2 separate regions of the Homo sapiens genome follow, and region 2 is linked to region 1. The links come from fine-mapping of genetic effects on gene expression. A gene starts in region 1. The other region holds a variant in brackets. All regions are shown on one strand. Distances are between the middles of the regions.

Region 1 (8,400 bases):
GGGCCAACCACATCCTGTGGGTGTCTTTAATGGGAGTGGGGGAGGTAAGGGGTGATAGCTGGAGCCCTAAGAGAAGCTAGGGAGGGAGGTGGGGCAGCTGGGGGCCATGGAGGCTATTTGGGGGCAAGACTGGGGCACCAGGGTCTGAAGGTCTCTAAATTGTAGGGGAGACAAAGTCCAGCCCAGGGCAGCACTCATCCTTCCCGGTCCCTCTGCCACATCTGCCAGCCTGCTTATAATAAAAGTTCCCATTTGCTGAGAGCTGTGAACCAGGCCCTGTTATAAGTGTCTAACACTGAATCATCAGCAAGCTTGTGAGGAGGGCACTATACCATCATCAACTCCTTCCCTGTTTTTCAGATGAAAACTGTGGTCCAGAGAAGGCAGCTTAGTCACCAGGGTCACACAGCAGTTAACGGTGGAAGAGAGACGCAAGCCCAGGGCCTATGCTTATCACTACCCTGTACGTCAATGCTCAGGCAGGTACGAAGGCAGGCACAGACCCTGATCGCAGGGAATGAGCAGGGATTCGCAGGCACTGAGCTCCCGCTGGTGGCCAGATATATGGCTTCATTCTTATAGGGCTTGCTACCGTGAAGGAAAGGAAGGTCACCTGGCTAGTGGTAAGAGACAGTCAGAACTCGAACCCAGGTCTGGGCCACTCGGTTGCCTTCCTGTCTCTAACAGAAGATCCAGAATTTATTTGGGAGAACAAAGCTCCCAAAATTGAGTTTGAACAAAGTGTGTTATGAGAGACAGGTGGCGAACGGGAGAAACAATGCTGCTGGCAAACTCCTGCTCTTCCTTCAGAACCCTTGTGAGATGTCACTGCCTCTGAGAAGCCTTCCCTGACCTGCCACAATAGGTCAGGTCCCTGGTCTGTGTCTTCACAATGCCCAGTGCTTCCCCCATCACATCACCCCCCTTCCTTGGGCCTTCTGGCCTGCCTCTCAAAACCATGGCAGCTGGGTCATCCCAGGCCTGGCTCCTTGTCTCAGGTATGCAGTGTGCGCATGTATCCGCCCACCTGCCTCCCTCCGGGCACATGATCCTAGGCTAGTATCTTGGAGCACTGGGAACTAATGGGATGCCAGGGCTCTCAGGGCAGTGCACTGCCTGTGGGCACTGAAAATCTTGGCTGGGACAAGTCGGTTCTCAGCAGCCCTAGCACCTGAATATTCCCTCAGCAGATGGAAAAACTGATCAGTGGGCGCTATCAGAGCCCTCCTCCTGGTAGAGCACATGAGGCCTGGAGTGCCCCCCTACAGCTAGCTTTAGTCTCTTTCACTGCACTGGAGGAAGCGCTGCTGGCACAGGAAAACCAGACATCCCTGCCCCCATTCCAGTTCTCTTTGCCTGTAAGGTCAGGGTCCCCCAGCCGGGCTAAGCAGACACTGATAGGATGTGTGTGTAGAAGACTCCAGCTAGGCTGCTCCTGCCCCAGGACAGAAGGCAGGGCTGGGCCAGCCTCCCCAGGTGAAAAGATATGCCTGGGCTGGGCCTGGCGAGTGGAAAAAAATTCCCTTAGAAGGAAACAGAGGTGAATTTCCCCATGATTTGCATATGATGGGGGGGCTAGCCCGCCTGCCCCTGGGGAGGGGGGGTGGCCGGGCAGGAACCGAGTAGCAGCTGAGACAGGAAGTTTGAGGCTGGAATTCCCCTCCTGCCACTACCCCAGCTCAGAAACCCCCGAGGTGGGTGCGTGGCTCTGCTTCTCAGGAGCAGGCTCCTCTGAGCACCCCTCATCACAGCCCCTCCTCCCATGTCCCTCCTCCTTCTGGATACAAACACATACTGCATATGGCTGCTCCCAGGGCTCAGCCGCTCCTGGCCCATACCTCCAGAGGAAGGAGTCACACAGATCCAACCTAGCTCCTAGCCCAGCTACATGAGGCTGGACACTGAGAGGGACCCCTTCTAATCTCGAAGCATGGGCTGTGACCTGCTGCCTCTTGGCATGGAAACTGGATTTTCTCAGCCTCCCATCCAGGCTCAGCCCAAGTCAGAGAGAGGAAGACTGGCCTGAAGGTGACAGAAGGAGGGAAGAGCACTCAGCTGCATGCCTGCTGAGCTGGGCCAGGGCCAGCTGGACAGTGAACTTGTCCCACAGGGGCCACAAATTAGGGAGGGCAGAGGCTGATGTCATGCCAGCCTTGGGCAGCCCACCTAGGAGCTCCCTCAGGGCAGCCAGAAAATCATCCCTTCTCAACCCTGTGTCTGGGGTCTCCCCGTCCATGCCAACAGGAACTTTTCCCTGTGAGCCATCCACCCAGCACTGACTCATCAGCCTGCCTTGGAGGGAACTGGGAAAAAAGTGGGGCCAGAGGGTGGAGCCTGGATTGACGGGAGAAGTCTGGGTTTCCCAAGGTCAGCAGCAGCCCTGGCTTCCCTCTCTGCCCCTACCTCCCCACCCCATTCCTGTGCTGGGGGATGGGGGTGGGAGTCACTGGGGGCTGAGTCCTGGCTCTGGCCCCGGGGAACCTCCAGAGACTGGTCCAGCCCAGGCTGCTTCAGCTGAGTCAGTAGGGATCCAAGTTGCAGCTCGCCTGAGGCCAGAGCATCAGGCCACCTGCCCACAACCCATGTAAAGCTGGACCCAGCCTTGAGGTCACTCTTGGACACAGTCACTGGACCTGTTTTCGTGGGAGCCCAGGTCTGAGACAAGAAGGCCTCAGAAGCCCAGCCCCTGAAATAACAACAACAACTGCTACTACCACTGCCTACTACCACTACTATGGTTCCTGAACGCTTGCTCCTCTCCGGGATCCGCACACTCCCTCCTCACAACACCCACCTGAGATCAGGTTCCGAGGGGTGAGTGAGCAGCTGCCCACGGGCTGGTCCCCTTTACAGCCCTGCCTCACATTACAGGAGAGGAGTGGAGACACAGTGCTGGCCTCAGGGAGGGACCCACAGCATAAGGTAAGCTCTGCGGACAGAGGGACCTGGGCTGGAACCCTGCCTCTGTCACTTACCAGTAGCGCGACCCTAGCCTCATAAAAGGCTTTCCCTCCCTCTAGACCAGTCCCTAAGAAGGAAGTCACTTCTTCCAGCCCACCAGAGCTGCAGAGACAGTCATCCTTCCATGTGTCCTGGCCACAGGAGAGATGCGAACCTCATGTGTCCTGGCCACAGAAGTGACACTTACCTCATGGCCACGTTGCTCCCATCGATGACCACTGGTCTCAGGTCGCTGCCCTCCTTTTCCTCTTCTGGGAGTGGAGGCTCCAGGTTGGGAGCCTTAGGGGTGCCACCACCCCGCGGGACTAGAGGGAGCTGAGGGCAGGGGTCCGGTGAGGTCTGGCGCTCCCGCTCGGTGGCTGTCCCGTGTTTCACCAGCTCACCCAGCACCGTGTTGGTGTCTGCCTGGACGCCCAGCTTCTGCAGGACGCTGTGGATCTCCGTGGATGAATAGCCCAGCTTCCGGAAGAAGTCCACCTTCATCTGCAGTTCCAGGGCCGAGGCCTCCTCAGCGGCCAGCTCTTGACCCGGCCTTGGGGTGCCCTGACGGCTGTGGCTGTCCTCAAATTCCCACAGACTCATGGTGGGGCTGGCTTCCAGGACAGGCTTCTCTCCACAGGGGCCACTCATAGCTCAGACTCCTGGAAGGCCCCGCGCCACAGCTCCTACTGAACAACCAACAGGGTTAGGGACGGTGAATAGCGCTCTCTCCTAACCTCCCTCCCAAAACCACATCCAGCAGGATGAGGGATTGGTGGCACTACACACTGCATCGTGTTATTAGTTCAGGTTGTCCTCTCAAAAGCTCTCCCAGCTAGGCATTCCCATTCCCATTCTATAAAGGGAGAAACTGAGGCACAGACATTAAAAACGTGCTCAAGGTCATCCAGCTGTTAGCTGGTGGCTCGAAGATCGGAACTTAGTCTGAACTAAGACTGGAACTACCCCAGCTGTAAAGCCTCGAACCCCCACGCCAACCCAGGGGACCCAGAAGGCAGGGACGGGGCTCTCAGATGGAATCCTGGGGCTGGAAGTGCGTTGCGGGGCCCAAGGCTTCCCCACTGAGGCCACCACTTTCGCCCACCCGTCCGGCACTCAGAGCTCAGGCCCAGGCAGCGCAAGGCCCATGGCCGGACTCCCGGAGCCGGGGAGGGCAAGTTTCTGGGGTGACCCGTGGGGAGAAAAGTTGCTGGAAAACTTTGGTTGGCTGCCGGGAGCTGGTGACGCCGAGGCTGTCCCGGCCCGAGACCCGCGCTTGCTCGGCCCGCGATCCCGATCAGGAACCTGGTGCTCTTCCCCGGCTCTCCCAACTTGGGCAAAGTTGGAGGGGTCCTGAGGCCCGGCGGGCCGGGGAACAGGACCCCGACCCTTCCGTCCCCTCCCCTCTCCACCCCTCCCGTCCCCTCCCGTCCCCTCCCCTCGGCTCGGCTCGGACCCCGCCGGAGCGCTCCCTGCCGCTTCCCCGCCGAGGCCCGCACCCTCCCCGCCGCGCCTCACCCCGCCATGCGCCAGCGGCGGCCGGCGGCGTCTCCATGGGGCCGAGTCCTGGGGGTAAGGACGGCGGCGCCTTTATATGGGGCGGCGCGCGGGCAGGTGGTGGTGAGGCACTGACGCGGAAGCGGGCAAGGGGCGGGGCCGTCCCGGGAGACCGCCCCGGGGGCGGGGCTGCCTCGCCCCTTCCTGCTCCGCTCCTCGCGTCGCGGCCCCGCCCCCGCGGCCGCTGCGCGCCGGACGGGGCCCAAGCGGGGGTCGGAGCCTCAAGGCTGCGGCGGCGACGAGCTCCGAGCGGGACACTGAACGGCCCGTATGCGCAAGATAAGCACGGACTGAATCAGGTACACGCACCTGCCGGGGACGCACTGACCGAGGTGCGGACGGCGGTACCAGGACAGGTAAAGCCGCGAACACTCGGACCTAAGAACTTGACAGGTACACCCTGCCTGATGAAGCTACGTACGGCCAGGTGCGCATCGAGTGAATCAGGTACGCGGAGGTTGGTCCACGCACCTTGGAGGCAGGTCCATGGTTATAGACAGGTACATCCAGACAGGCACTTTTCAGATGGAGTCAGGCCCCCTCAAGACACACTGTGCTTAAAGCCGTCACACAGAGGTTGGCCACCCCCGGGGCCAGGTACACTTTTCCTGAAATCTGTACTTTACTAGGACCAAAAGGCAGGTTCAGTCAGCAGATGCACAATGACCGAGGCAGAAAACCAGGCAAAAGAGGGCCATTTACCCCAATCACCACATGAATACTGTCCACACAAGAATACTGTCACCCATACCGCAGAACTCACTGAGCGCCCCCACTGGAGGAGCACCCTTGCTCCATGAAGATGCTTTTAGTTTCCCAGGTCAGACCTGATCCCTCGCATGAGCACAGCACTTTACAGGCTTACACTCACGGGCTTACAGACAGAGGTCATTATGCTGATGTTACCCTTGAGAAATTCTGCAAAGGCTAAACTGCCCCAGCTGGAAAGACTCGAACCAGGATGGAGAGCTCCTATTCTAGTGCTCCTATTATTTGCCATTTTTGTGAACCACGAGTGACTGAGGGCAGAGGGGAGCCTGGCTTCCTATGTGTGTGTGTGTGTGTGCGTGCGTGTGTGTGAGTGAGAGAGAGAGAGAGAAAACACAGAGCCCACACGCTGGAGGACAGAGCCACATGCCACCAGTGCTTACTATGTGCCAGTCCTTTGTTACATTCTCTCTACCTCATCATAGGCATGTATCCTATAAGTGCTAGTGTTATAATAAATACTTGTTTATTGTAAAAGACACCATAGACACAACTGTACATGTACAGCTTAAAGAATAATAGTAATAATAAAAAAGCCATGTATCCATCACCTAACTTAAAAAATAGACCAGTGCCAGTACCTTGAGGCCCTCTGGGTGCCCCCATCACAGCCTCCTGCCCACATCCTGAAGAACTAGTTTCCTGAACTTTAATTGTGCTAGTCATTCTCTTGCTTTTTCTTGTAGTTTTACCACCTCTGTATGCATCCCTAAGTGGGATATTGTATAGTTTTGCTATTTTTTACTTTGTGTAAACGGAGTCATTCCATAATTATGTGACTTCCTTTTTCATACAGCATTATATTTTTAAAAATCCATTTTGATTGCCTGCATACCTGTAATTTATTTTACTACTGAATAGTGTCCCATTTTATGAATATACCACTGGTTACTTATTCAGTCACCTGCTGTTGGATGTTGTTTCTAGGATTTTTTTTCTATTACAAAGACTGTGCTTTGGATATTCTTGTATGTATCTTAATGAAATTGTACAGTGGAGGAAATGGATGTTCAGAGATTCAGAAAGGTGAAGTCACCTGCTCAGGCTCTGGGGGCTGGTGGAGCTGGAACTCATGTAGCTCTCTCCAAGGCAGTCCATCTCCCCATCCACACCTGCTTGTTCGGGAGGCCACCAAAGACCCCAGGGAGGCAGGCGTGTACGTCTCTATCTGGACCCTGAGGCTGTTCCTCTGGGCTTGCTTGCTCTTACCTAGCGGTGTTCCTGCTTTGTTGCCTGGTCATCTTTGAAGACCCCAAAGTGTCCCCTTCTCTGCTCCCCAGGCACAGCAGCTCCAGGGGCTTGGCAACCCAAGGAGAGAGGAAACACAAGGCCCCCTGCTGCATGCCAGCTCACATCCCATGCTGGGCACCTCACATGCTTGCTGTCACTCCAGCTGAGTGCGGTGCCGGCGGCACCCCTAACCTCACAACAGTCCCTTTTACAGATGAGAAGAGCTCAGTTATGTTAAGCATTTATTCGCTATAGCAACTACCTTTAAGATAGTAAAAACATTAAGTGATGTGTCCAGGTTAATAATGATAATGACAATACTAATCAATCATAGAGATAATGCCTCCCATTTATAGAGTGCTCACTGGGTGGCAGGCACCAGCTAGCGCCTTGCAGACACTTTCGGGCCTCTGCTCTGCTTCTTCCTTGGCTTGGAGTGCCCTTCCCTCTCTCCCACCCAGCTGCTTCCTAGCCAGTTCCATTCATCTTTTGGATGATGTCACCTCCTCTGTGAGGCCAGCCAAGACTCCTTTGATGCTGGTTGTACCCTCCTAAGTGTCCCCACAACACCCTGCCTATGTCCCAACGTGTTAGATTGTCTTTGCCAGCCTGAGACCTCCTCTGGAGCTGCAACAAGACCAGACTCTGCTCCTGCTCCCAGACCCTCTGCTGCCCAGCCCTGTGCCAGTAGGAGCCAGCAGGACTAGGCGATGAGTCATGCTGCTCCCTGCCCTCCCAGAGAGAGCCACAGTCTCGCTGTCTTCCGGCTCATGCTACTTCCCAAGAAGCCGACTCTCCTCTACAGAACCCACGGCTTCTTTGGGGAACCCCTGCTCCGTTTACAGCTGGATTTTGCAAACTTTGGCCCTAATCCCCAGGAGTTCTCTGAAGCCGAGCCCACACAAACCCCTCTGCCTCTCGTATGCCTGTCTTGGCAGCTGGGCTGGCTAATTTCCTTCTTGGAGCCTGCCTGGCCTCCCACCATCTATCTGCCTGTGCCCAGCCAGCGTAGGTGGGGTCTGCAAAGCTTGTGGACTGGTCACTGCCTGAGGGTGGTGGGGGGTTGGGAGATGAGGTTGGAGAGGGAAAGGTCCCAGGAATGACCTTGGCTTTCAGTTGCTTCACTGGGCAGCTCAGCCTGGGGAGGACCCGGGAACTGGGCTACCTCTGTAGAAAGGCTGGGCAGGCTGCCCTCAAGCCTTAAGGGAGTGGCTGCTGAGGTGATGTTTAAATTCAACAAGGCCTCCTAGAAGTGAAGAAAGGACCAGATCCCTCCCATGTTTGAGACTCCTGGTATATTTCTTTTTATTTTTTATTTTCGAGATGGAGTCTGGCTCTGTCGCCCAGGCTGGAGTGCAGTGGCGCGATCTCAGCTCACTGCAAGCTCCGCCTCCCAGGTTCATGCCATTCTCCTGCCTCAGCCTCCCGAGTAGCTGGGACTACCAGTAGCTGGGACTACAGGTGCCTGCCAACACACCTGGATAATTTTTTTGTGTTTTTAGTAGAAACGGGGTTTCACCGTGTTAGCCAGGATGGTCTCGATCTCTTGACCTCGTGATCCGCCCGCCTTGGCCTCCCAAAGTGCTGGGATTACAGGCATGAGCCACTGCTCCCGGCCAGACTCCTGGTATATTTCAAAAAGACATGTCACAGCAGGGCTACAAAAATCAATGTATGTTTTAAACGGTAACTGAACAAATTAACTCTTTTTTTTTTAAATCATGCATTCAAATGCGGTGCAATATATTTGGACTATTGACAAGATAATTGGAGAACTTGTATTAAAAATACATTATTTCCTTGGAGAGATGGCTGATTTTAGGGCTGGGACAGGGAAAGGATGAGCCGGCAGTGTGCTGTGGTGCCAGGGATTTAGGAAGCGCTCAAAACACAAAAGGATGGGAG
Region 2 (8,400 bases), 21 kb after region 1:
CCGACCCCATGCTTCCTTTTAATTAGGAACATCACTTCCTTTACATGCCACAACCTACCTGAAGTTTTGACGCCAAGCCCCCACTTTCACTGAGCTGGCAAACACGCTCCTTTGAGTCACTCTTGAAGTTTTAAGTGCACCTTGCTCTGAAGCAGAGTCAAGACCTGGGAGTGAGGGGAAAGATTTGTTGTCCCTTGGTTGTCTGTTCATCCCGATCATGGCTGAGGCATCTAATGTCCCTTTCTGAAGGTGGCCTCATATCTTCAGCCCTCCACTGCTTCTGAGCCGTGCATGGGACTTGGGGATCTACGAGGGGCCCAAGGAGTGCCATGTAGCACTCCTGCTTGTGAGGACAGCTCTGTTGGTGGGTCTGCCGGCTCTATTCTAGGTCACATCAGAGATCTTCCCGAGAATAACCCATGCTGGCTAAAGCATCGGATTGGGTGCAGTCAGAATTGAGGTCAAATCCTGCAAAACCTGTTTTCCTCATCTGCAGAATGGAGAAGATGCTAACAATACCTCCCTCATCGAATTGGTGTGAAGAATTCAATGTCTTGGTGTTTGTAAAGGGCTTAGGATAGTGTCTGACATGTAGTCCATGGGATGTCTTGATGCAGGTCATCATCTCACCCTTGTTCATTATTGGATGGAGAAACCAGGGTCCCAGAGACACTGGCCGGCTGGGGCAAGATCACCACTCATTCCTATCAACAGCTGGGTTAAAGGTGCAGAAGACATGCTTATTCGATTTGCAGGTGACCCAAAACTAGATGCAGTGGCTGGTATTTTAAATGACCAAACAAGAGCCCAAAATCCCCTAAAGCGGATGAGATGATGGACTAACCCCTCTACGGATGGATGTAAAATTAAAATTTTTTGCATGAAAGAGATTTTGGCTGAAGGTTCATTGCACATTGAGATGGTTGCCCCAAATGATTGTGGTCTCAGGCTGAGTCTGTAGAGGTACAGGTTGACGATGAGGGAGGTGATAGCTGGAGGGTTGTGCTCAACTCTGGTTGTCGTACATTTGAGGAGACAGGGAGAGACCAGAGTCCAGTTTGTGGAGGGTAAAGGTTAGTGAGGAACTGGGGATACTGATCTTGCAGAAGAGAAGACTCAAAAGGGCAGAGGCAGGAACAGTGGTATAACCCTGCCTGGCTCCAAGGGCAGAACTGGCACCCATGGAGATAACAGGGGCCTGAGAACCAGCTCTGTGGCTATCAGAACTTTCCCACAGTGAATCAGAGTGCCTTCAGAGGTGGTGAGCTCCCCATCACCAATGGTATGCAAGCAGAGTGAGGAAAGGATTCCTGTTTCCAGCTCTCAGATGGTTTTATCAACAGCAAAAAAACTAGACCCTACTGATAAAAATTTCTGTTGGCTATATATACACATATAGTTAACAAATATGTAATCCATATTTCCCCTATTTTAAGGTTTATTTTATTTTATTTTTGAGACAGGGTCTCACTCTGTCACGCAGGCTAAAGTGTAGTGCAGGATCTTGGCTCACAGCAGCCTCTACCTCCCGGTTTAAGCCATTCTCCCACCTCAGCCTCCTGAGTAGCTGGGACTACAGGCTCCTGCCACTACACACCTGGCTAATTTTTGTATTTTTTGTAGAGACGAAGTTTCGCCATGTTGCCCAGGCTGATCTCAAGCTCTTGGGCTCAAGCAATCCACCTGCCTTGGCCTCCCGAAGTGCTGGGATTACAGGTATGAGTCACCACGCCCAGCATACTTTAAGAAAATGAATATTATAGAAATTGGGACTAATTTACAATCAATGCGTAGGTTTACTGTATCCTTCCTTCCTGAAAAGTTGTTATTTGAATCAAAATGAAGTATATGATTGAGCAGGTTTTTCTGACACTCTGTTTTTCATCTTTCAATCTGTTTTTCACTTTTGTCATTAGAATGTATGTCTTGAATTTAAAAACAAAGTATCTAAATAAATAACAAATATTTTAAAAATCCAGCCTTCTTAGTGAAGCCACACTCAATCTATTGAATACATCTTCTGCTGACATTCCACCTTGTCGCCGCCATCTTGGCCTCTGAAATAGAATGGAGACCGGCTATTAAACCAGTTTTTAGCAAATTCGGAGCAGCAGGTTCTTGGCTGGGGGAAAAAAATTCCACTTATCAAGAGATGTTTATTCCTTCAAAGGGTGAGAACCTACTTCTTCATAAAGAGAATTTGGAGGGAGCTTTTTGTTCTGCGGGGACAACATCTGGATTTGAATACATCCATGCTCAAAAGGAGATTTCTCATAATGGACCCAACTGAAAGCACTCAGAGTACAAGGACCGGTGAGCTTTCAAAAGGAGACACTTCGGGAGACTCGCCAGGGGCCCTCGTATCCCCGGCAGCGCGAGTTTTGGAGGTCAGTGGAGGGCTCTCGCATCATGCATGTAACTTTCATACTCAAAAACTTACCTTCATCCTGCATCCCTCACCCCCCTGCAGAAACTTGGGGCTTGAATTCATTTAAAAACATTTGCGGTTTCAGAAGCCTTCTTTTTATTATGAAGCTGCCAAGGAGATCTTAGAATGAAAGGCATTTTTAGAGATGAGAAAGAAGGAAGCCAGGCCAAGGCTGGGCCGGCTCTCAGCCGTGGGTCTGTAAAGGTGACACGTGGGACATGGCCACCTGCAGACCCTGCAGGCGGCTGGGCAGAGGCACCCACAGGGACCTGGGTTTGAATCCCTGCTCTGCCAGTCATTTCCACAGCGATCTTGGGGGAAGTTGTGTAACCTCTGGGCCCTGCGACGCCCTTTCCTGGAGCCTGGAGCTGGAACGAAGCCCCTTGGAGCCCTGACATCAGAGGTGACGTTAGTCTTCGCAGGCAATGACTCGGCGGAATGTGATGCCACTCCCTAACCCGTGTCCGGACTGGCAGAGTGTGTGCCGCCTCCCACCAGGTGGTCTGGCTGCTTTGATGGATCTCCTAACTTCTCTGCACCCCAGAGCCCTCAGTGCTGGCCAGACCTTCACTCACTCCTGGGTGACAACCCCGTTCTCAGATAGTGGGTCCCACAGGCTGGCCTGTGGCGCCCCCTGCTGGTGACTGCAGGGAGAAGGATGCCCTAAGCCAAAGGAAGTCCTTCCTGGGGTCTAATCTCTACCTTTTGCATGATGAGGCAGCTGAGGTGGCTCGCTTTCTCCTCCACCCCAGAAAATAAAGTCATATGGAGTCCAAGCAGTTATTTTTCTCTGCTAGGCCAGTCCATCATAAGCCCCAAATGGAGGGGCCCCTGGAATGAGCCCTATGCAGGCCTTCTATGGACAAGGGCCCTTCAGGGAGTAGGGCTGTGGTGAGGATGGGGTGCATGTGTGTGGGCTCTCACCTGGGTGTGGGAAGATCAGAGGGACCCCACAGGTCAGTGTTTGCAGATGAAAAAATGAAGGTAGGAGCTGGGCACGGTGGCTCACGTCTGTAATCCCAGCACTTTGGGAGGCCAAGGCAGGTGGATCACGAGGTCAGGAGATCGAGACCATCCTGGCTAACATGGTGAAACCCCGTCTCTACTAAAAATACAAAAAGTTAGCCAGGTATGGTGGCGGGCTCCTGTAGTCCCAGCTACTAGGGAGGCTGAGGCAGGAGAATGGCGTGAATCTGGGAGGCGGAGCTTGCAGTGAGCCGAGATCGCGCCACCGCACTTCAGCCTGGGCTACTGAGCAAGACTCCATCTCAAAAAAAAAAAAAAAAAAAAAAAGAAGGTAGGAAGCTTCAGCCTGAAGGTAAAGTTTTGGGGCAGCTCCAACCCACTGCCCTCCTGGGACCGGTTTTATCAGCGTTTCCCTGTAATTGGTGAAAGGCCTTCAGTTAGCCATTTCTCTGAAGATTAGAGAAAGCAAGAGAGATGTGAGTTAAACACAAGGCGGGACTTCTCAATGATGGGGGATGTCAGACCTCAGAAAGGGGAGCAAAGGAACCTTCCCACTGAGGGCAGCCTCCAGTGAGGTGGGGTCCAGGCCAGGCGGGTGAGATGGCCCTCAACACTGTCCATCTGGAGGGGCCTGGGACTAGGTTGTAGTCTATGGGGGTCTCAGGATGGAAAGGCCTCTTGAGAGGCTCCTGGTGGCTGGGACTTTTGTGGATGGGATGGTGAGGACGGGCAGGGGGAGAGACTGAGGCCCAGAGGCATTGCCACCCCCATCCTCCCCCGCCTGGTAAACTCATCTTCCTGACTCATTGGCTTGCCTCCTCTG[C/T]GGACACTGCCTGGTCCCTGTGCAAGGTCACGTTGCTTGCCCTCCACGAGCTCCCGTCCTGCTGCTGAGCTCATGTTCTGTGATGGCAGCCTCTGTGTCCATCCTCCCTGCTGGACTGTGGGCTCCACACCGGCTGAGACCTGACTGTCTTGCTCCAGCCTGGCTCTAACTCCAGCACCTGGCACATCTAATCTTGCCTGGCATGTCCTGGTGCTCAGTGGCTTCAACTGAGAAGAGGCCCAGGGTCTTCCTTGGTCCAGCTAAGCCTGGCTTTAGAAAGGATTGGGGCAGACGTAGGGGAGGCAGAGCCCCAAGTCTTGATGGATGGGTGACCTGGGCACTCTGACTTTCTGCACAGGGCTACCCCTTTCCCCCATTGAGACACCCTCCTAACTCAGCTGTAGGCTCTGACACCCCACTTCTGGCTGGCTCTGGCTTCCCACACTGGAACCATCCCCTGCATGGCTGCCTTGCTTTGTCTGCCTGGGCTCTGACACCCATATCAGGCTGACCCCATAGGGGTGACAGCCCCTCACTGATTTGTACTCTGACACCCCTGGGCCAGCCTGCCTTCCCCAGTGGTCCCCCTCCTCACTCTGCTAGGAATCCTGCTGTGTTCATCCATGGTTCCCCCATTCCCTTGCTCTGCTGCACATAATAGTTTTAGGACTGAATTGTTGAGGAAGGAAAGGAGAGAGGAGGAACAGAACTCTGTTTTTGAAAAATTATTTTAACTGTGGACATTTTTGTGCGAGAAAAATTTTGGACAGAATACTAAATGGAGCTGCTCTGGTTGAAGAAAGAGTGAAAGAGAGGGAGAAAGAGAAGAGAATGGGAAAGGACAGACAGCAGAGAGGAGAGGGAGAGGGGAGAGAGAGGACAGGGGAGGGAAGAGGAGAGGGGAGGGGAGGGGAGAGATGAGGGGAGGGGAGGGGAGAGGAGAGGAGGAAGCCCTTCAATGCCCCTGGAGTCCTGCCCACTTGGTCCCACTCCCTCAGAACTCTCATCTGTCATTAAGCTCTTGGGGTTCCTAGGTGTGCAGTTTGGGGACCACCGGACAAGAATTCTGCCTCAAATAAAATGAGTGCCACTTAGCCGCTAAGATGTCTTCTCTGAGCTTTTCTGAGAAGCAGCCCTGGAGGCAGCGGGCTCACCACCTACCCTGAGTAGCTTCTGAGCCTGGCAGCAGTCACCTGGAGCTTGAGGGTAGCAGCTGCCTCTGCCTGGAGGAGGCATCTCTGAGCAGGGCCAGGGGGCCCTGGACAGGCATTGGAGGTGTCCTTCCGGGCCTGGTGGAAGTGGGCTAGGGGCTGTGAGTGAGAAGACTTCTATAGGCCGAGGCACTGGGTAGACACCTCACCCCCAGCCATCTGTGGACCCTTTGTGACCCTTTATGCTCCATCTCTGTCTCCCCCACAATCACCGGAGAAACAGGATCTGGGAATTCTGCCTTGGTGGCCGAAGCAGAAGTCACTGCCCTCCTAATGCCACTCATCGGACCACACAACACTTTCACCGCCAGTCCTTGTGTGATTTGATCTTTGCAAATCAGAGATAGTACTGTTAATAATTTCCCTGCAGGAAAGAGGAAGTTAAGGATATGAGGAATTGCCGTCAGGATCAGAGGTAAGGCCCGGAATCCCAACAGACTCCCATTCCCAGCACCTTCCGGGCACCCGCCTTCGAGGCCTTTCCCCTCCCTGCCGCTTTATAATGCTAATTGAGGGAATGAGTTTCCTTGGCCTGAGAGTGGGCTAGGGCTGGGGCTGGGACCCAGGGCTTAGGCAATCCCAAGGGTCTGGAAAGGAAAACAGGTCAGGAGTAGAACCCTTTCCCAACACCATGGGCCAGCTCCCAGGCCCCATCTTGGGCGTGGGGGATTTGGAGTAGGATGACCATATAATTAGTCATCCAGATTAGGATACGTTTGGGAATGAAAGGGAGTGTCATTAAAAGTTACCCTAGGGCGGCCGGGCGCGGAGGCTCACGCCTGTAATCCCAGCACTTTGGGAGGCTGAGGCAGGTGGATCCAGAGGTCAGCAGTTCGAGACCAGCCTGGCCAACATAGTGAAACCCCATCTCTACTAAAAATACAAAAATTAGGCTGGTGGCTCACGCCTGTAATCCCTGCACTTTGGGAGGCCGAGGCGGGTGGATCACCTGAGGTCAGGAGTTTGAGACCAGCCTGGCCAACATGATGAAACCCCATCTCTACCAAAAAATTAGCCTGATGTGGTGGCGGGTGCCTGTAATCCCAGCTACTCGGGAGGCTGAGGCAGGAGAATCGCTTAAACCCAGGAGGCAGAGGTTGCAGTGAGCCAAGATGGTGCCACTGCACTCCAGCCTGGGTGACAAGAAAAAAAGCTGGCATCGTGGTGTGCACCTGTAGTCCCAGCTACTCAGGAGGCTGAGGCAGGAGAATCGCTTGAATCCGGGAGGCAGAGGTTGTGGTGAGCCAAGATCGTGCCACTGCACTCCAGCCTGGGCAACAGAGCGAGATTCCATCTCAAAAAAAAAAAAAAAAAAAGTTACCCTAGGGCAATAGCTGAGAACCCCCACGAGGTCATTCTGTGATGGAACCCCTGCCCTGCCCTCCCCCTCCGCAGCTTCAGACCCCCACACCCTCTCCTGCTGCTGTGTCTCCAACTGATGCTGAAAGTAAAAGCCGCCACTCACTGGCCGGTTACCTGCCCAGCACTCCACAGAGCTTGTTTTTTGTGACCTTCATGACAGCTGTGAGTCTCATTTTATTGATAGAGACACTGAGGCCCAGAAGAAACTGGCCCAAGAACACACAGGTGGTGAGTGGTAGAGCTGGGATTTGAACCCAGGGAGGCTGGCTTTCCTTGGAAGGATTATACGAACATTTTAATTGGTTTGGCCCACAAGAATTGAATTGCGAAGGAATGAGGCTTCCCAAGCCTTTCATCAGACCGTCCGCAGTCTCTTGTAGCTGTCTTCAGCTCAGGGACATCATTAAAAGGAACTTTGCAGCTTGGGCAACAAGGTGAAATCCTTTCTCTACTAAAAAAAATTTTAAAAATTAGCCAGGCGTGGTGGCGCGAGCCTGTGGTCCCAGCTACTACTTTGGAGGCTAAGGTGGGAGGATCACCTGAGTCTGGGAGGCAGAGGTTGAAGTGAGCCGGAATCGTGCCACTGCACTCCAGCCTAGGCGACAGAGAAAGAACCTGTCTCCACAAAAATATTTAAAAATTACCTGGGCGTGTTGGCACGTGCCTATAGTCTCAGCTACTCAGGAGGCTGAAGTGGGAGAATTGCTTGAGCCCAGGAGTTTGAGGCTGTAGTGAGCCATGACACTCCAGCCTGAGTGATAGAGGGAGACTCCGTCAAAACCAAACAAAACACAAAACAAAACAAAAACCCAAAAAGGCCGGAGAGGTGGCTCACACCTGTAATCCCAGCACTTTGGGAGGCTGAGGTGGGAGGATTGCTTGAGCCTGGGAGTTCTAGACCAGCCTGGGCAACATAACGAGACCTTGTCTCTACAAAAAAACAAAAAAAACTAGCTGGGCATGGTGGCATATGCCTGTGATCCCAGCTACTTGGGGAGGGGTGCTGAGGTGGGAGAATCCCTTGAGGCCAGGAGGTCGAGGTTGCAGTCAGCTTTGATTGTGCCACTGCACTCCGGCCTGGGTGACAGAGCTAAACCCTGCCTCCTAAAAAAAGGAAGTGGGTGGCGGGTATGGGGGAGGGGGATGTGTGGGCAAGGGAAGGAGGGAGGTGCACTCAGCAGGGGCAATGTGTAAGGAGTATGCAATGGAAGGGAGGCAGCCGGATGTCATTAGTCAAAGTTAACATTTGTTATGGACCTACTGCATACCGGGCTCTATTTAAAGTGTTTTCAAGGTACTATTCTATTTAATCTTCATACCAACCCTATAAGCTGGGTTGTTTTACAGATCATCACTACGAAGAGCAAAACAGGCCACTTGCCCACCTTGACAGAGCTGGTAAGTGGCAGAGCCAGGACCATCCAGACGGCTCAGCTTCCAAGCCAGCAAGCCTCATCGCCATGCAGTTTGTCCCCAGGGAGGAAGGATGCTTCTGGTCCCAGGGTCCAGGATGCTCTACCCTCCTTCCTCTAGGATATCCAGGGGGCCAGCTTTAGTGAGAGGAGAGTGCATGGTCCAGCCTTCTGGGGGCACCCAGAGTGTCCCCTTCC

The links. PIP is the estimated chance that this variant, and not a neighbour inherited with it, causes the effect.
Region 2: its variant is fine-mapped to the expression of LITATS1 in unexposed skin (GTEx, PIP 0.92).

What each region holds. Positions count from the first base shown.
Region 1 is chr1:37,470,688-37,479,087 of GRCh38, reverse strand. LITATS1 (lncRNA induced by TGF-beta and antagonizes TGF-beta signaling 1) reads left to right here and starts at 4,645. Exons shown (of 3, transcript NR_038842.1): 1 at 4,645-4,944. ZC3H12A (zinc finger CCCH-type containing 12A) reads right to left here and starts at 4,508. Exons shown (of 6, transcript NM_025079.3): 1 at 4,459-4,508; 2 at 3,149-3,629. The coding sequence starts at 3,591. RefSeq lists enhancers at 1-163, 1,554-1,853, 3,564-3,663 and silencers at 4,314-4,773, 5,234-5,333.
Region 2 is chr1:37,449,683-37,458,082 of GRCh38, reverse strand. It overlaps LITATS1 (lncRNA induced by TGF-beta and antagonizes TGF-beta signaling 1), which reads left to right. Exons shown (of 3, transcript NR_038842.1): 2 at 1,624-1,716; 3 at 2,171-3,204. Among named protein-coding and RNA genes, the nearest start is that of LITATS1, 21 kb to the left of the region's middle. RefSeq lists enhancers at 2,244-2,765, 2,766-3,287, 2,136-3,335, 5,333-6,123, 5,526-6,725. The variant C/T (reference allele first, on the strand shown) is at 4,218.